2 separate regions of the Homo sapiens genome follow, and region 2 is linked to region 1. A link means that fine-mapping ties the variant in region 1 to the expression of a gene that starts in the linked region. Tissue or cell type: whole blood. Region 1 holds a variant in brackets; the other region holds the start of a gene. All regions are shown on one strand. Distances are from middle to middle. Region 1 overlaps DOCK5 (dedicator of cytokinesis 5). Region 2 holds the start of DOCK5 (dedicator of cytokinesis 5).

Region 1 (10,158 bases):
CGGCCTCCCAAAATGCTGGGATTACAGGCGTGAGCCACTGTGGCCGGCCTAAATGGCTATTTCATGGTGAATAAACCATTAGCCTCAGGCTTCGTCTCCTCTCTCTGTTTGAAGACAATAAAGTATGATGTAATTGTATTATTTTGATAAGGTAATATTTAGTCCCATGACATACAAAACACTAGTAGCATTACATAAAACAAAGTATTTCAATAGTGAAAGAGAACATTTATATACAATTATTTCTATAGTCTAACAGTATCACTAACATTACATGCCTTTTAAAAAATATGTTTGAGTTACTGAAGAAGATTGAGATACAGATGTTGACTTGTTTAGGGCAACAGGTTAAGCTAACTTTAGAACGCTGATTACTACCTTTAGTCCTGCAGGCTGTGGAGCCGGGCAGCCAAGCCATGCTTGAAATCAGAATCGTCAAGGTGGATGCAAGAGCCATTGGCTGCAGAGTGAGGTTTTGGAGAGTAGTTGCTTGTGGCTGGGATTTTTGAAGTCCAAGTCTCCTAACTTTTATTACTCTTTACCTTGTGAAGTCATATAAGGCTCTAAGTCAAGTAAGACGGAAGGAATAAGATTAGCACACTTCCTGGTACAGTGGGCAGTACGTGATAGCTATCTGAAAGTTTGCTCAGTCGCAGCCTCCCTGACAGTACCCTAGCCTGGCAATCAGGTGCCTTTGTTTGCAGAGTGGGGCTGATTACCAAGTAGTTAATACTGGTTGGCTCAGAACCTGTCCTCAAAGTTCAGAATAGATTTGAGTATATTTTTGATTTTAGAGCCTTATGGCCAGAAATGGCCTTATCTTGCAAGAATCTTCCTGGGAAAAAAACATATATATATATATTTTTTTCTTCTCTTTGAGACAGAGTCTCGCTCTGTCACCCAGGCTGGAGCGCAGTGGCACAATCGTGGCTCACTGCAATCTCTGCCTCCCGGGTTCACGCGATTCTCCTGCCTCAGCCTCCCCAAGTAGCTGTGACTACAGGCATGCACCACCACCCCCAGCTAATTTTTGTATTTTTAGAAGAGATAGGGTTTTGCCATGTTGGCCAGGCTGGTCTCGAACTCCTGTCCTCAAGCGATCCACCTGCCTCGGCCTCCCAAACTGTTGGCATTACAGGTGTGAGCCACCGCACCCACCCCTGGAAAATATTTGAATTCCCAGGGATCTCTGGGTGATGGGACTGTTACTTTCTTCTGATCCTGTGCTTTTGGGGTGGTACTCACTCACTGGCTTAGAACAGCCTGGAATCCTAAGAGGAATGGATGAATGAATGAATTCACACACAACAAACTAACGGAAATGTTTTGAGTCACGCCACCTTGCGTGTGAATCCCCTTACTGTGGCTAACCCACCTCACTGTTCTGAGGAAGCCCATGTTCACTGAGCACCTTTTATGTTCCAGGGTCTTGCTGGGCTGGATGGTGGTGAGGATCACACAGTAGTCCCGCCTTATCCTCAAGGCATGCTTGAAACCACGGATAGTACCCAAGCTTGTATATACAATGCTGCTTCTATACAAATATATTTATGATAAAGCTGAATTTCTAAATTAGGCACAGTAAGAGGTTATCAACAATAACTAATAATAAAAAAGAACAATCAACACAATATGCCAGTATTACCACTCTTGCACTTTGGGGCCATGATTAAGTAAAATAAGGGTGACTTGAACACCAGCACTGCAATACCCCGGCAGTTTGTTTTTGAATTTTTTTATTTAATATTTTTGGACCTTGAGTACCTGAAGCCACAGAAGGTGACACAGGGGACACTAGGAGACTACTGTGTAAGATAAAGAGTCTATAGAAACACACATAGAAGCAGTAGGCAGGGATTCATAATGGCTGCTTTCCTTTTCTTTAGCTTGATAAGAGTGCTACCAAATACATCTCCAGTGTCATGAATTCATGGATGTGTGACCAGTAGCTCTTGGCCAGCCATTTCTGGTCTTAACACCCAGATCATCATAGAATATGAGGATAGGAATCCACTGATGACAGAATCCTGAATGACTATCTTATGTGCCTGAAAGCCTGCCTCAAAGAAGGCTGATGTCTTCTTGAATTAAAGAGTTGCTTGCATATAGAATATACTGGAGTCATTTTTCAGAAGATCCTTACATGGCTTGGCAGAGGGTGGCATCCAGTTTATCTTTGGCGGAATTAGATTTGCTGCTCAAGATTGTTTTCAAATTGTTTGATAGCTTCAGGGAGGTCCACTGGTAAGCTCACAAATTCAGAAATAGTTTGAGGCTACAGAAGAATTCTTTTCATGTTTGAGCTGTGATCTAAGCCAAGAGCCTTGGAAATTTTGAATCCGTCTTATATTTTCTTTCCTGAATGAGAAATGGGTATACTTGCTCAGTTCCGATTCTGACAACATGACTTATTTCAAAAACAAATAGCTCACTCCGTGAAGCAAACCCTGTATCACTCTCCTCTGGTGACATTTCGATTCTGATACAATGTGGTGGCATGGGGATAGATTTTAGACCAGGAAAAGAGAGAGCCTCTCATTTGTGGCCCAAAAGACTCAATTTTAAAGATCAGATTGGAATCTGTCAGGGAGGACATATGGACATAGTGATTTTTTCTTTTATTTGCCTTTTTTCGCCTCTCTTTACTTTTGGTTTAATGTCTTTTAGGACTTGAGGTACAAAATCCCATGTTGTGGAGGCATTAGCTAACAGTTGTAAAACCTTAGGAAAAGTACAGCATCTCAGTGATCCTGCCTTCCTAAAATTGCTCCTCAACAAATACAGATGGAGGAAATAGAAATATCTAAAATGAAACGTGTTCTTTCGTCTTAGATGTCTTTATCTTCTTGCTTTTATCAGCAGCCTTGAGTGACAGGATTTTATACTTTTGGAAGATTAGAGGGTTTGTTTGTTTTTCTTGCAGAAATAGTTACTTATACCATGTTCATTTATCTGCCTCAGTTCTGAGAATTCTTTGCCAATTTTTTTAATAGCATGTGTTTGGATGAATTATAGACTTCATAGAAGTAACTTCAGGAATTATCGACTTCATAGTCGATACAACATAATGAGACCCTGTCTGTACTTTAACTTTTTAATACAAGAAATTTTTTAAAATTTTAGGGGCATTTAGGTTTTTGGGGGATAGTGCATGGAGTGAAACTAACAGAAGTATTGATCCCAGGATTAGGAAGTTGGGTTTGTATTTCAGTCTCTGTTACAGGAGTGACCAAGTGGCTTGACTCTCTTTAGCTTAGTTTTTCCATCTGCAAAACAGAGATAATATTTTCTATTACCTTCTAGATTCTCAGAGTGTGATGAATTTTCAGTTGTTGAAAATTTCTGCAAATGAATTAAGCGATGCCTGTTAGGCCACATTAATGGACTAAAAACTGCTAGGATCTAAAGTTGACATGCCATTGAACTTTCTGCCTGAAGACTTACTGAGGAAACTTTGTCTACAAAGGTTTGGTGCAAAGAACCCCATTACTTTATGGCCAAATTTTCTTCACATGCCGATGGTAATCCAGTAGTCTTTCTTCTAACTTCTTGGCGGCTTTCATATACTCTTCAGACTGGCTAAGTCATACGTTAATAGGAAGAACTAATTTTCTCTCCCTGAGGCTGAACTTGTGATCTTTTTCATCTGGTTTCCACTTCTCAGATTTCCCCAAATCTCTCAGTCGTCTTTCCCAAAGTATTTAAAGGAAGATTGATTTTAACAGAGTGCTATGGACTGAATTATGTCCCTCACAAATTCCTATGTTGAAGCCTCAGCCCCTAGTGTGATGGTATTTGGAGATGGGTCCTGGGAGATAATTAGGTTTAGATGAGTTCATGGTGGGGCCCTCATGAGGGGATTAGTGCTTTTTTTAAAAAAAATTATTTTTAAAAATGTCTTTTATTAAAAAGTTAATTAAAGTACAGACAGGGTCTCATTATGTTGGCCAGGTTGGTCTTGAACTCCTGGCCTCAAGCAATCCTCCCACCTCAGCCTCCCAAAATGCTTGGATTACAGGTGTCAGCCCCTGTGCCTGGTCTCTTCTTTTATGTGGAGAGCGCTCTCCCTCTCTCT[C/T]GCTCTTGCTGTCTCTCACTCTCTCTCCCTCTGTCTCTCTCTTTCTGTCTTTCTCTTTCTCTCTCTATGCTATGTGAGGATACAATGAGAGGGTGGCCACCTATAAGCCGGGAAGAGAGCCCTCACCGGAAACTGACCATGATGGTAACTTGATCTTGGACTTCCAGCCCCCAGAGCTGTTAGAAAACACATTTCTGTTATTTAAGCCACATGGTGTGTGGTATTTTGTTATGGCAGCCTAAGCTGACTGAGACACAGGGAGTTGCGTGTTATTTGAAATACGAGTCCACTGTTGCCAGATCAAAGTTCAATCTCTGTAGTTTAATCCTAGATTTTTCCCTCCTCTTTTACAGGGATTTGAATCTAGTGAAAGTAATTCACATGCACATCAGATACATGCCTTTAGCAGCCTTCTGGCCTTGAAAATCCTGCTGTTGCTGATTCAGTTGTCAGGGCCCAAATCAGCTGGTGAACTCATGAGTTTGCAGGTCTAGAATTGTAGGTGTGGGAAGGGGAGAGAGACATGGGTTACTGAAGACTTGTGCAAATAAATGCTGTGTTCATCTTCACCGATTCACCAGGTATCTGAGTAGGAGGTATGCACTTAGCACTTGGAATACTCAGAGATAATGCCATTGCACACTTAATTGATACTTCTCCTAACACTTAAGAGAAGTGGACATAGATTCTGTTTGTGGGAAGTTTATAATGAATTAAAAGACCCCAAGTATAAAGCCATAAATAACTCCAGGGAAAGGAAGGCTGAACATGAAAAAAGTTGCAAAAAAAGTCCAGTTGGGGTTATTGGAGTTTAGAGAAGCAGAGATTATTCTAATTGAGGGAGTTGAGGAAGCTTCAGGGAAGTAGTTGAACTTTATAGAGATGGACATCAGGTTTGGGAAGGCTGGGGACCTGGCACAGCGTGAGCCCTGGCCCTAACGCAGTTATTTGTGGCAAGTGGATAATGAGGAAGTTGTCCATTCTTGCTGAAGCAAAGGGTGGGTAAAGTGGAAAAGAGGGAAATGATATAGATTTTGTCAGATTATGGGGAGACTTGTTTACCTTGATTTTTTTTCTTCCTCTTTAACCATTCATGCTGCAATAGTGTGCTGGTAAACTAGCTCTGTAGAGTGGGAGGAAAAAACTTGAGTTTGTAGCATTCACCAATATCTGTGGTGTAAATACTCCCACAGTGGCCAATTTCAGACCAGCAGTGGATTAAGAGATAGCTCACAGAATTCCTGAAAATTCCTGAAAATGTAACAGTTGGCCCTTCCAAACTAGTACAAGTTTGCTCCAGTATTCTGTGAAAAACCTGGGCTAGTTCCTACATGACAAATAGTTACAGTACCTGCCTGCCCACAGCCTGGATAGAAGACCCAGGGAAGGCCTAGGTAGCCTCGTTTTACACCATCTAAGATTCCTGTGGCCATCACTGATTGTCCCTGGATGGACACACTACCTAGAGGCCATTCCGTAGCCTGGACAATGACATATGGTTTGACGCAAAGAAGTAAGTACTCAATCAGGTTCCTTCTCTTGGGAATTTGAATGAGGAAATACCAATATGTTTTGCCACAGGGGCAAAAGCTAAAAGGATGTCGTTTGGGAGTTGAGTTGGTGGCAACCTGAAGCCATGTGGAAGCCAATGTTGTGAATGGAAACCACAAGGAAACTGAAAAAGCTGATTGATAGAGAGAGGGGAGCAGATGTGGAGAGACCCTACAGCCCTAGAGTGGCCCCTGTTCTTAGCAGCTTTCCAAGTCCAGGTCTAAAACATCCCTTTTCTGAGGCAATTTGAGTGAGTCTCTGTTCCTTGCAATACCGTGGCATCACTGAAGAAGTTTATGTGGCAACTCAGGGTACTTTGCAGAGCTTTCTATGAATGCAGACATACCTCCTTCTATATAGCACATCACTTTATTGATCGACCATAAGATTCATGGTCGATCAATAAAGCAATGGTTCATGAAGTTTGATGAAAGAAGTTTAATAAAAGAAGCCATTGCCATAGCATAGAAGTGCAAGGTGAGGCAGCAAGTGCTGATATAGAAGCTGTGGCAAGTTATCCAGAAGATCTAGTGAAGATATTGATGAAAGTGGCTACACTAACAACATATTTTAAGTGTAGATGAAATAGCCTTCTATTGTAAGAAGATGCTGTCTAGTACTTTCATAGCTAGAGAGGAGAAGTCAGTGACGGGCATCAAAGGATAGGCTGACCCTCTTGTTAGGGGCTAATGCAGCTGGTGACTTTAAATTGAAACCAGTGCTCTTTCACCATTCTGAAAAATCTGAGGGCCCTTAACAATTATGCTAAATCTACTCTGCCTGTGCTCTATAAATGGAACAGCAAAGTCTGGATGACAGTACATCTGTTGACAGCATGGTTTACTGACTATTTTAAGCCTACTGTTGAGACCTACAGCTGAGAAAAAGAAGATTCCTTGATTCAAAATATTACTGCCCATTGACAATGCACCAGGTCACCCAAGAGCTTAGATGGAGATGGACAAGGAGATTAATGTTTTCATGCCTGCTGACACAACATGAATACTGCAGCCCATGGATCAAGGGATAATTTTGACTTTCAAGTCTGATTATTTAAAAGAATACATTTCATGAAATGGTGGCTGCCATAAATAGTGATTACGCTGATGGTTCTAGGTGTAGTACATTAAAAACCTTCTGGAAAGGATTCCCCATTCTAAATGCCACTAAGAATATTGATGTTTCATGGGAGGAGGTCAAAATATCAATATTAGTAGGAGTGTGGAAGAAATTGATTCCAATTCTCATGGATGACTTTGAGGGGTTCAAAACTTCAGTGAAGGATGTCCCTGCAGATGTTGTGGAAATAGCAAGAGCACTAGAATTAGAAGTGGAGCCTGAAGATGTGAGAATTGCTGCAATCTCTTGATAAAACTTGAGCAGAGAAGAGTTACTTTTTATGAATGAGCAAAGAAAGTGGTTTCTTGAGATGGACTCTATCTTGGTGAAGATGCTGTGAACATTGTTGACAACCAAGGATTTAGAATAATCCATAAACTTGTTGACAAAGCAGTGGAAAGGTTTGAGAGGATTGACTCCAAATTTGAAAGAAGTTATACTGTGGGTGAAATACTATGAAATGCTATCAAATAGCATCACATGCTATAGAGAAATATTTCATGAAAGGAAGTATCAATTGATCTGGCAAACTTAATTGCTGTCTTATTTTAAGAAATTGCCACAGCTGCCCCAGTCTTCAGCAACTGCCACCCTGATCCATGAGCTGCTATCAATATCAAAGCAAGACCCTTCACCAGCCAAAAAATTAAGAGTCCTTGAAGGCTCAGATGATCATATGCATTTTTTTAGCAATAAAATATTTTCAAATTAAGGTCTGTACATTTTTTAGACATAATGCTATTACACACTTAATTGACTGTAGTGTAAACATAACTTTTATAGGCACAGGGGAACCGAAAAATTTGTGTGATTGGCTTTACTGCAATATTTGCTTTATTGCACAGTCTGGAACCAAATCCACAGTATCTCCTAGGTATGCCTATATAGCAAATTTCTTAAGAATAGAGGACAAATCACTTGCTTCTGATTGAGGTTAAAATATGCCCATGACCTTCATTTCTTTGCCTTCCCTCCCTCCCTGCACTCCTCCCAAATGACTTGTGAATATTATTTTTTCATTCTTTTTCATTCCAGCAGAGCTGGTTTGGAATTCATGATGTTGAAAGAATAGCCAGTAGGAACATGTGGTGGGGTGATGTTTTGTTGGCATTTACCATTACAGAAAATCACAAGAAAATTGGAGCCATTAGCAGCAGGGAAAGGAAAATGAGTTCTTTATCTGCTGAGGGCATCTGGTGAGGGAGGGTCTGTGAAGATGCCGCGGGTGCACTGCTCTAGTATGAAATGCCATTTGAAGGAGGCTCAGAGCACATTAGCGCCGTCATCCCTGTCTGATGTTCTCACCACACGCAAGTTCGTGAATAATTAAATTGTTAGGAAGGGGAAAGTCATGCATGGCGGGTCTTGCCCGAGGCTCAGGCAGACACACAATGAGGTCGCTACTCTGGGAGCCCAGTGGTCCAGGATGCCAGTCTGGCAGTGCCAGGGAAGGATGCTTCCTTTCAATAAGCGAACATTGTGAGGGAGCGGGGTGGAGGCAAGAGACCGCTTAGAAATCAGCACATGTGAATTCTGCTTCAAACTCTGCCACTAACCAGCTATTTGACCTTCCAGAAGTTGCTTCTTCATCTATAATGAAGGATGATGCCAAGAGGATTTTAACTTTTTGAGAAATAAAGCTCCTTTGAGACTGTAATGAAAGCTGTGGATTCTTTCCACAGAAAATGGTGCATATGTCTGTCGATGACATTTCACATACAACTTTAGGAAGTTTAGAAATCTTTGGGGACTCAAGGATCCCAGCTTAAGAAGAAGTCTTGCATGAGATGATGTCTGAACTTTTTTTGTATCTCTACAATTGCATTTTTCTGAGACTTTGGATCTTGGAAGGAACCTAGAATGTCAGCTGGGCTCTCACTTCTACTCTCAACAAGAGGCAAGCCTGCCCTGCCAGCATTTCGTGCAGAAGGCGCAAGCAACATGGGAGCCTCCTGTGTTTTCCTCAAAAGACACCATACTTCTTTTTCATTAGAGACAGGGTCTCAGCCTCGCTCTGTTGCCTAGAGTGCAGTGGCGCCATGATCCTCCCCCCTCAGTCTCTTGAGCTGCTGGGACTACAGGCACATGCCACCATCCCCGGCTAATTATATATATATATATATATATATATAAATGTGTGTGTGTGTGTGTGTGTGTGTGTGTGTGTATCTGTCTATTTATCTATCTATCTATCTATCTATCTATCTATCTATCTATCTATCTATCTATCTATCGAGTAGAGATGGGGCCTTGCTATTTTGTCCAGGCTAGTCTTGAACTCTTGGCCTCAAGCGATCCTCCTGCCTTGGGCTCCCAAAGTGCTGAGATTACAGGCATGAGACACTGCATCTGGCCCTCTATAACCTCTTGATGTGTGCATTCTAAGCGGGAAGAAACAGACAGCAAATGCACAGTATGTATAGCATGATGTCAGTGATCAGGGCTTTGAAAATATTGATGAAGCACAGTGATGCCATAGACAGTGATGGGGTGAGGTGCTGTTGTCGAGTTGGGATGGTCAGATAACGGCTCTGTGGAGGGGATATGTGGGAAAAGATGTGAATAAAAGAGGGATTGGGACCGGGCGCTGTGGCTCACACCTGTCATCCCAGCATTTTGGGAGGCCAAGGTGGATGGATCAGTTGAGGCCAAGAGTTCAAGACAAGCCTGCCCAACATGGAGAAACCCCATCTCTACTGAAAAATACAAAAATTAGCCAAGTGTGGTGACACATGCCTGTAATCCCAGCTACTTGGGAGGCTGAGGCATGAGAATTGCTTGAGCCTGGGAGGCAGAGGTTGCAGTGAGCTGAGGTGGCACCACTGCACTCCAGCCTAGGCGACAGATCAAGACTGTCTCCAAAACAAAAAAGAGGGACTGAGCCATGCAAATCTAAAGTAAGAACATTCTAGGCAGAAGATGTGGCACAGTTAAGGAGCAGTGGAAAGTGCCAATGTTCCTGGAGCTGAATGAGGGGAGGGGGAAGGGAGGAGGGAGAGGTGGGAGACAGGTTGAGAGACTGGCAGAGCTGAGGTTGGGGTAGTTCTTTGTCTACTGGAAACACAATTATCTGTACTCAAATGACATCTAATAATAATGGTTATTGATAAGCCACCCATTCATTTCATAGGCTTGGTTCATTACCAGCAATGGGCTGCTTTAATAAGACAGTGGTCCTCAAACCTCCTTCTGTCAACAGCACCTGGATAGCCTGCTTTGCAGAGTACCATTGGAATCAGATATCCCTGTCTTTAAGGAACTTACAGTACAGCAGAGGGGACAGGATGGTGTCTCCATTATTTTGTGCACATGGGAGAATTGCTGTGTCTCATAAGAGAAGCACAGAAAGTGCCAAATAGAGTTTCAGGAGAGGAAGTGAGTACTATCTATTGGAGAGGTCAGGAAGGCCCCAG
Region 2 (10,158 bases), 22 kb before region 1:
GATTTCATCTCACCTAAATATGGATCTAGTTTTCAAGAAACTAATGCCTTCTTACTGCTCACATCATCCACCTCTCCCAACAGTGGAATCAGCTCATTTAGACACAGCAAAGAACATTCCAGAAACAACACTAGAAAAAAGAATTTTCCCATGTTCATGAAAAGGGTAAATCATAAGTATAAATCTCCTTGTGACAGAGATGAGGAGATAATAGCATTGGAGCCCCGAGCATTATCTTCCCATCCATCAGAGAAGCCGGACCCCCACAGCCACATGGCAGAGCCTGTGCAGACTCAGAGATGCTCACGACCTAAGTCACTTGCAGAGTGGAGAGTGAATAATGATGTTGGAATCCCTGGGGCCTATGAAAAGGTACTTCTGGGACTAGGGTGATTCATGGTTTCCTTTGTCCTGCTAAGCTCATGGGTCCCAGAATTACAATGTATCACCTACTCCTGGCTTACTTAGAACCATCCTTAGGAGCCTGCAAAGCACTGCTTAGAACCAATTACATTATTTGCATTGTTATCATTTTTTTGGTAGTTCCATTAGCCACTGACTCGTATAGGATCACAGAATAATCTTCTTTTATCTAGAGAGAGAGAGAAAAAAGACACTTTAAACGACTCCACAGCATCTCATAGAGAAGCCATCAGACCAGCCTGATTTGGCAAAAACAAGCCTGGTAATCAACAGGGAGGTGAGGCTCTTGCCAGTTCTCTTCACATCCTGTCCATTTATTCTCTAAGGCATTGTAAGGGTTAGTCACAATACTCATGTCAAACTAACCCTCAAAGCCACTTACCCTCATTTCTTTCTCCATGGCTCCTTCAAGCAGAGCCTGTGAGTGTCTGTGCGTGCTTAAGTGTGTTTGTATTTGTGTGGGTTTTGGAGTCTGAAGATCTCTGTGGAATATGCTTAATGTTTCTTCTGAAAAGATATCAGAGGAAAAAAAAAGGGTATTTCTGGGCATCACGCTGTCATTCCAACTGCCTGTCTGGTTAACTGTCTAATTTTAAGCCTCATTCTAATAAAAGACTTTGAAAAGCTCTGCTTTTATGATTTAAAAGGACATTCACACTAGGATTTAGCCATCTGATATAGCAAAGTGAGTGGATTTCAGTTTTCAAAAGGAAATGATAAACATACTGAAAGCTGTAATTAAAATTTTCCATTTTCCTCCAACTCTCTTAAAGCCATTGTCAAATTTGAAATCTCTGGCACCCAAATTCAAACCTCTAGTTTTGGAAGAAGAAGACTTCAATGCAAAAGTGGGATGAGGCAGTTGAAATCGCTTTGGTAGAAACCCAGTTCCACTGGATAAGAGCATTAACATTCTGATGTATGGTACATTTGAAATATACCTTTGGTCAGAGAACAGAGGTCATCCAATTTCCCTAAGCACGGAGAATTCATGTAACTTTGAGAAGCCCTGAGTCCACAACAGGCAAGTCATATAATCCAGTGCAGAGCGCTTTAGCTCCTAAGGGGCCACATGGAGAAGTTGCTGAGGAAGGCGTGAAGAAGTGGGTCCTAAAGAAATATTGAAAGGAAAACTTTGATACAGAGCAACTGGGACAGGAAAGGGTGAAGACAAGATAGATATAAATGGTGACCAAGACAATGGCAACTCTACTCCCTTGCTATTCAAGCCCCAAACCTTAGAGTCACTCTTTTTGTTTTGAATTAATATTTGTTTAGAGACAGGGTCTTGCTATGTTGTCCAAGCTGAAATGCAGTGCCAATTCACAGGTGCCATCCCATTATTGATCAGAAGGGGAGCTCAAGAGAGGGTGCCACCTGGAGCCTGAGGCAGTTCAAATGTGAAGTCCCGGCTACGGGATCTTTGTCAATAATGCAGTCAGTGACAGAGAAAAGACAAGGATGCATCCAGTTGCTTTCTACACAGGGATGCTCTCTGGGCTGCTGGCTGGTTGGAAAAGGGAGGTCTTGGGGTAGATTTCCCCCTGGATATGTGGGCCTGAATTTCTTCAGCTAAGGAGGAGTACCGAAGTTTTGGGATATAGGACTTCCAAATTAGGGCTTTCCAAATAATTGACCCGCTCCATTTCTGACCTGGACCAGTTCACCCCTCCTTAGGCAACCTGGTGGTCGCCTGCTCCCAGGATGTCACTATATTGATGCGGAACTTAGTGCAGACACCTGATCAGCATAGCTCACTGCAGCCTGGAACTCCTGGGCTCAAGCAATCCTCTTGCCTCAGCCTCCCTAGCAGCTGGGACTACAGGCATGTGCGACCTAGCTGGCTTTAGAGTCATTCTTGACCCAGCTTGTATCTCACATGCAGGGACAAGAACCAAGGTGTGTGGGGCCTGAAGGGTGTACGATACGGGTAGGGCTCTTTAAAAAAAAAAAGAAAAATACAAGCATATCTCTTTCTGGGGGAAAACTTTCCAAAAAAGATTGAAGCCTCACAGTAGTAGATCCCCCTGCCGTTCATGTGGCCCTCCTCTTGGTTCTTTTTCATGCTGTGATGCAATCATAGCTCACTGCTAGCCTCGACCTCCTGGGCTCAAGCAATCCTCCCACCTCAGTCTCCTGAGTAGATAGGGCCACAGGCACAGCCACCATGCCCAGGATATATATATAGTAGAGGAGGGTCTCACTATGTTGTCCAGGCTGATTTTGAACTCCTGACCTTAAGCAATCCTCCCACCTCAGCCTCCCAAAATGCTGGGATTACAGGTGTGAGCCACCACATCTGGCCAGGCTCTATTTTCACGTATGTCAAGAACCCAACATCTTTTTCACCTCCATCCTTATCCTCCTGGACCCAACTACCTTCATGTCTTGCCTGAATGACTGAAATAGCCCCCAACATCCATCCATGTGGGCCTCCCTTGCCCCTTTACAATGGATTCATACCACAGCAGGCAAGTTCAATATGTTCCAGGTTGGCTCAAAGCCCTCCAAACCTCGCTTGTAGTAGTAATATATAAAGTCCATATGCCTGCCAGGGTTCTGCTCTATCTGGCATTCCTCTGCCTCTTAGACCAAGTTTCCTCTCACCTGTTACTCAGCTCTCATTACCTAGGATCTCTGGGTGACCTGGGAACCTGCCAAACACGCTTGGTGTCCTTTGCCTTTGCTGTTCCTCTTTTCCAGAATACTTTCTCCCGGAATCTTCACTTCCTTCAGGTCTACACCTCAACCTCAGCTTAGCAGAGCTGCATTCCCAGACCACTCCATAAAAACAGCAGCACCCTACACGCCCTATCCTCCCTGCTTTGGATTTTTCTCTAATGTTTACTCTCGTTTGGTGTACATTTCTTTACTGTCTTACTCTCCCCGTCTAGACTAGAAGCTCTGTGAAGGGACACATTCTACTGTATTCACCGCTGCACCCTCATTCTTAGAGTGATGCCTGGCACTTAACGTGTAGGCATTTAATATGTGTGTGAAGAAGGAAGAAGAAATTACCTAACCTGGGAAATTAGAATCATGATATACTAATGGAGGAAGATAAATTATTTTAGGGAAGATGGTGGAATTCTTTCTGGATGTCAAGTCTAAAGTGACAGAGGAATTTCTTAAATTATTGTTAAACATTGTGAATAAATACCTATTGGTTGATGGAGAAAAAAAAAGCCAGCTCTAGTAGTTACCCACCGTGAATAGGACTTAAAAAAAATTTCAGACCTCGTTTGGTAAAAAACCACCAAAGTTAAAATGCACTAATTCTCCAATGAAACTTTACTATCTTGTTACCTTGTTTGCCTATCTATCTTTACTGTCTTTTTTTTTTTTTTTTTTTTTTAGACGGAGTTTTGCCCTGTTGCCCAGGCTGGAGTGCAGTGGCGCGATCTCGGCTCACTTATAGCCTCTGCCTCCCGGGTTCCAGCGATTCTCCTGCCTCAGCCTCCTGGGTAGCTGGGATTACATGAGCACACCAGCACGTCTGGCTAACTTTTGTATTTTAGTAGAGAAGGGGTTTCACCATGTTGGCCAGGCTGGTCTGGAACTCGTGACCTCAGGTGATCCACCCGCCTCGGCCTCCCAAAGTGCTGAGATTACAGGCATGAGCCACCACGCCTGGCCAACTACCTGTCTTTACTATCTTTACTACATGTTTGTCTTCCTTTCTTTTATATTCCTAAAACGCATGAAAACCTTCACAGGCTGCAAGGAGGATATAATTTCTCTCTAGAGGAATCTTCTTCGAAGGTGAACGTAATTAAGCTGGTCATTTACTCTACTTGCAATGTTACTTCTCGGTACAAGGTAGGGAGAAACCCCTGGATCTTCATTCTCCAAGTCTCTCCAGGAAGAAATGAATTCCAAGAGGGGAGCTCCAGAGAGGGCGCCACCTGGAGCCCAAGGCGGTTCAAATGCGCAGCCCCTTTGGGATCTTCGTCAAGAAAAGGCAGTCGTTGACGGAGAAAAGACGGGGATGCGCCTTGGCCCTTTCTCCACGGGAATGCTCTCTGGGCTGCTGGCTGGTTGGGAAAGGGAGGTCTGGGCATGAGGGTCTAAGTTTCTTCAGCTTAAGGTTGGGGGGTCCCCGGAGTTTGGGGATACAGGACTTCCAAATTAGGGCTTTCTAAACAATTTCCCTGCAGAGGATCCCCTAGCAAACGGTCTGATACTTCTGAGGAGCCCACCTCCCTTGCACCAGCTCTCCGGTGATAAAAGTTCTGCTTTCCAGGCTCTAAGCGGTGGCCCCGGGAGATTCAGTCTGCCCTGAGTCCGGCTTCTCCCGCTCGCGGCGCGGGTTCAAGCTCCAGGGGGTGAAGGCAGAAGTCAACTGCTCATTCATTCAACAAATATTTATTGCGCGCCCGCTTAGTGCCAGGCACCGGAGGTGCCCCGAGCAAGAAGCCGCTCTCGCTGATCCGTTTCCGCTCCCCAAGTGTCCGGCGCGCGCCGTGGGAGCGCAGCCCGCATCCCTCGCCCACCGGCCGCCCGGCCTGGGCGTGCCCGGCTCCTCCAGCGCAGCCCTCTGTCGGGAGCCGGACCCCCGGGACCCAGCCTCCGGGGTATCAGCCGGGTGGGGAGGGCGGGAGAAAGGCAAAGTGCCGCCAGCGTCAAAGTCCCGCCGGCCCAGGAAGCCGCTCCAGGGAAGCGCGCGAGGCGGAGCCGCAGTCGGCCCCCGCCCGGCAGAGCGCAGAGAGCGGCGCGGGCGGGAGAGGCCGGGCGCCCGCGGCTCGGAGGCGGCCCCGGCGGGCGGAGGGTGCGGCCGGCGGGAGGGACTGGGGCGGCGCCAGGAGGGGCGCGCACTGCTGCGCTGCAGCCCGGCCCAGCAGGTGACCGCGGGCGGCGCGGGCACGGGCACGGGCGCGGGCGGCGCGGCGAGGAGGCGGCCCGCGGAGTCCAGCGAAGTTTGGCGGAACATGGCGGAAGCGTCTGGGGCACGCAGGAGCGCGGGGCGGCGGCGGCCGGAGCCCGAGGAGCTGTAGCAGCCTTAGTCGCCGCCGCCGCGGGGCGAGGTCGCCGCCATGGCCCGCTGGATCCCGACCAAGAGGCAGAAGTACGGGGTTGGTGAGTGCGCGCCCCACCTTGTCCCGGCCCGACCCACGCGGCCAAGTTCGCGGACAGCGGCCCTGCCAGGTTTGCGCAGAGCCCGGCGGAGGACCCTGGCCGGGGGCTCGGCCCGGCTGCGCAGCTCTGGGAGCCGGGGACGGTAGGAGTCCTCTCCAGGGAGCGCCGATGGGGAAGTCGCCCAGGGTTTGGGGACTCCGAGTGCTTCCAAGTGCAGCTGAGCTTCGGGACCGTAATCCCGCTCTTGCATCCCAATCTCCGGCACTTCACACCAGGGAAATGTCAACGCGAGGGGGGCGCGCCTGCTGCTCTTTTGGGGCCGCAGCTCTGTGGCTCGCCCCGGTGCGCCCAGCGTGGGTTTCACCTGGGAGTAGGTGACCAGCCCGGGTCGGCACATGGACTGGTGCTCATTGTCCCAGTGCTTTCTGCCCCCCGCTTTCGTAGGTTCTTCTCAGACGCCCCTTAAGTGAGGAGTTGAGGGTGGAAAGCCGCCCTGCCCCCTTTCCTCCAGAGACTGGGATCTTGATGACAGTTGTGAGCTGGATGGAAACTAGAGTCGTGGCGTGGAAGTGATGGAAGGGACAGGAAGTTGTGGCACGGGAAGGGGGTGGCTGGCCCCTGGGGCTGTTTGTGCGCACTCATCCCCTAACGGAGCCTGTCTGGAGAGGGTGTAAGGCTGCCTTCCGGATCCTGAGTTTCATCCTGGAGACGAGAAGAGGACATTTTATTAAGGAAACTGTGCCAGACCCCGTGCTGGGCACTTGGCATTCAGAACAGCGGTGCTGGAGAGCCCCGGGTTGTGCGCAGGGGTTGCTGGTGGTGGTGCTTTGGCTCCGAAACAATAGATGTGCGGGGATTTTGACCCAGGTGGAAAGTCAGGCTCCTTTGGCTTTTTATCAAGGATTGAAGTTATTGAGGGCCTGTGGGAAGACTTCTGCCCTGAACGGGGTGATTACAATGGCAGTTAGACCTGGGGTGATTCCCTACAATAAACACGGCTGAGTGTGTTGCGAATTTTATCACTTCCTCTCAGATCCATTCATTTGGCCTGTTTGTAATTTAGTCTTTGACTTTACTCCCTTACTGAGGTCCTGTTTTTCCTCACCTCACTGGTTAATGAAGTGCAGTCTCAATTAAGAGCTACTCAACGTGTCTAGGGGCTTTTCAACTCTGTAGCCAGGAGTCAGGGTTTTTTGTTGTTGTTTGTTTTGTTTTTTAACAGTCTCATATTTACTATATTATTCTTAGGTTGTGATCCTTTATATATTTATTATTTTTTGTTTTCCCTCAATTCAAAAGACATTTTCTTTTTTGCTCTTAAGTTGCTTTTAGAATCTTAGTCTCTCCCTTAGCTGCATCTCAGAAATGGGTAGAGATGTTGCTTCTGCCTCAGGGCTCTTTTTTTTTTTTTTTTTGGTTTGTTTGTTTTTGAGACGGACTGACGAGGGAGTCTCACTCTGTCGCCCAGGCCGGAGTGCAGTGGCGCAATCTCGGCTCACTGCAAGCTCCACCTCTAGGTTCCAGCAATTCTCCTGTCTCAGCCCCCCTCCCCGAGTAGCTGGGATTACGGGCTTGCATCACTACACCTGACTAATTTTTGTATTTTTAGTAGAAACCAGGTTTCGCCATCTGGGCCAGGCTGGTCTCAAACTCCTGACCTCAGGTGATCCGCCTGCCTCGGCCTCCCAAAGTGTTGGGATTACAGTCATGAGCCACCTCACCTGGCCCCTAGATGAAAGCATATTTACAATGCCCAATCACTACAGAAATGTTATCAACTCTAATTTTATCAGGATTAAAAGCTCTTTTCAAAACTATTCAGTTGAGGGTAATTAATGCAAACATGTTTCAAAAATGTGGTTTTTATTGCCATAGTCCTAGGAGCAAGTATAATTGTTTTTAATATTTTGTTTTTATGTTCTGGAGTCAGTTTACTGTGTCACTTATCAGTCAAGAAAAATATTTGGGCCAGGTGCGATGGCTCACGTCTGTAATCCCAACAATTTGGGTGGCAGAGGCAGGAGGATTGCTTGAGCCCAGGAGTTCAAAACTAGCATAGCAACATGGCAAACGGGTCTTTACAATAAATACGAAAAAAATTTAGCCGGGCATGGTCGCCTGTGCCTGTGGTTCTAGCTACTGAGGAGGCTGAGGTGGGAGGATAGCTTGAGCCTGGGAGGTTGAGGGTGCACCGAGCCCCCATCACGACACTGCACTCCAGCCTGGGTGATACTGTGAGACCCGATCTCAAAAAAAAAACTATATATACATATATATACGTATATATATATATACACACACACACACACGTATACACACACATATATGTATATATGTATATACATATATATGTATATATGCGTATATGTGTGTGTGTGTATATATATATGTATATGGAAATATGGGTGGAAATTGTGTGTGTGTGTGTGTGTGTGTGTGTGTGTGTAAAATATTTGGATTGCATTTCCAGGGCCTAGGTGTTAGGGAAACTGCTCCAGGATATAATTCTGAACACTTATTTCACCAGACATAGATTCTGGTTTGTCTGGGTTTGACAAAAGGACCCACAGTTGGGATAAATTAACTGAAGAGAGAAATCTCCATTGCTTATTGCTAAAACTCATTGTTTTTGTCACCTCCTTGCTTATGTTTATGTCACCTCCCTGCTTGGAAGTCTCTCGTGGTCAACAGGATAAAGTCTGAGCCTCCGTTCCAAGGTTCCTATAATCTGGTTCAGCCTATCTTCAGCATTATCTCTCGAGGCTTCTTTCACTAGCTCTCCAATGCAGACCAACTGCCCTTCCCACTGTTGTGCAACATACCCTGCAGAGTCCCTCCTTTGGGACTTTGCTCCCATTGTGCCTGTCCCTGCCAGGAGTGCCCTCCCAACTCTGCCTCAGACAGCTCACCTTTCCTTGAGGGCTCAAATCCATTCCTACTCCCTTCTTCAAATTTGCTATTTGTCAGACTGTCCCAAACCTCCTTGCTTCTTCCTCGCAGTTCCTGGACTGTGCCATCCTTGGGTTCAGTGAATCAGACCATTGTGGTTTTGTATTCCTAGCACTCAACAGGTGTACCAGGTATTAGTGCATTCAGTTTGCTTGTCCTTGATGTTGGGGTGCCGTTCTAAAGTACACTAACCTAGCTTGTCTGGTAATTGAATGCAGTTTTTTCCTCTTCTTTTTCTTCCCATTAGGCATAACATCTCATTCACCCCAATATGAGTTGAATTTTGTTTGGTTAGATGGAGGAAGGGAGAGCCTCCACTCTGTCTTTATCTCTGCAAGTAAGAGAATGAGATATTCTGCTGAGAAAACAAGGAAGCATGGAGCAGACAGACTTTCTTAAATATAGTTGGGAAAATTGGCTTTCTGGACTTCTCTAAGTGTGTACTGGTCAGATTTGGTTTCTGGATGAAGGAACCGTAGGATAGTCATGTTGAAGCATTTGGATGACTCAGAGCTAGCTATGACTTTGCCTGTTGTGCTCTAAGAGGAGTGTGCCTCTGCAGAGCTAGTCTGTGTGAGGATAGAGCTTTGGACTCAGTATGAATTGTGCCTGCTGAAGCTGGCAGTCGCTACTGTCATATTTTATCTTGGTGCCACTCTTGGCTGTTCCTGACATATCCTAGATGTTTCTACAGGGACTGAAATGCAGCCTGTCTGGGCTTTCTTAGTTCTTAAACAGCAGTGTTGGCTCAGGCTCTAGCATTAAGTGGATCTCAATGGTTTCTGTGTGTTATCAAGTGAAGTGACTGATCTATTTGATTCTTTAAACTTATGGTGCTCTAGTACCCCAGTGTTAAGTGCTCAGTGGCTAAGTGTTCTTCCCTGGAGACGTGGAAAATGTGCTTTTTTCTCATCTTTTTTCTTTCTTTGTTTCTCTTTTCTCTCTCTTTTTTCTGTTTGAGCATATGAAGATATAAAACACTTTTAAGCAAACATTAGTGATAAATATCCAGAATAGTCTGATTATAAAAACATTTATTTTTAAGTTTGCTTCCACACAAGCCATTATGTAAAGAATAGCCCCAGATTAGGTTGACTATGGATTCTTTGCAAAGCTTTTTTTTCTTTTCTTTTCTTTCTTTCTTTCTTTTTTTTTTTTTTTTTTTTGAGACAGGGCCTCACTCCACAGCCCAGACTAGAGTACAGTATGATCATAGCTCACTGCAACCTGCCATCTCAGCCTTCCAAGTTGCTGGAACTGCAGGTGTGCACCACCATGCCTGGCTTAAGTTTTTTGATTTTTTAAGTTTTAAAATATTAAACTTTTAAAATAATCATTTTAAAGATGGAGTCTTTCTATATTGTCCAGGCTGATCTGGAACTCTTGGCCTCGTGTGCTCCTTCAGCCTTAAGCCTCCCATGTTGCTAGGATTACAGGGGTGAGCCATGAGCCTGGCTGATTTTTTTTTCTTTTCTTCTGAGACAGGGTCTCGTTCTGTAACCCAGGATAGAGTGCAGTGGCAAAATCATGGCTCACTGCTGCCTCAACTTCCTGGGCTCAAGTGACCCTCCAGCCTCAGCCCGCTGAGAGCTGAGAGCTACAGGTGCGTGCCACCACAACCAGTTGATTTTTGTATTTTTTGTAGGGATGGAGTTTCACCATGTTGCCCAGGCTGGTCTGGAACTCCTAGGCTCAAGCAGTCCTTCTGCC

The links.
Region 2: it holds the start of DOCK5, and the variant in region 1 is fine-mapped to the expression of DOCK5 in whole blood (TOPMed, PIP 0.93).

Annotation. Positions count from the first base shown.
Region 1 is chr8:25,201,158-25,211,315 of GRCh38, forward strand. All of the region lies in intron 1 of DOCK5 (dedicator of cytokinesis 5), which reads left to right. Among named protein-coding and RNA genes, the nearest start is that of DOCK5, 22 kb to the left of the region's middle. The variant C/T (reference allele first, on the strand shown) is at 4,076.
Region 2 is chr8:25,179,453-25,189,610 of GRCh38, forward strand. It overlaps DOCK5 (dedicator of cytokinesis 5), which reads left to right and starts at 5,237. Exons shown (of 52, transcript NM_024940.8): 1 at 5,237-5,499. The coding sequence starts at 5,457. It overlaps LOC124901912 (a long non-coding RNA gene), which reads right to left and starts at 4,925. Exons shown (of 2, transcript XR_007060861.1): 1 at 1,365-4,925; 2 at 1-592. RefSeq lists silencers at 5,055-5,134, 5,145-5,314, 5,485-5,534.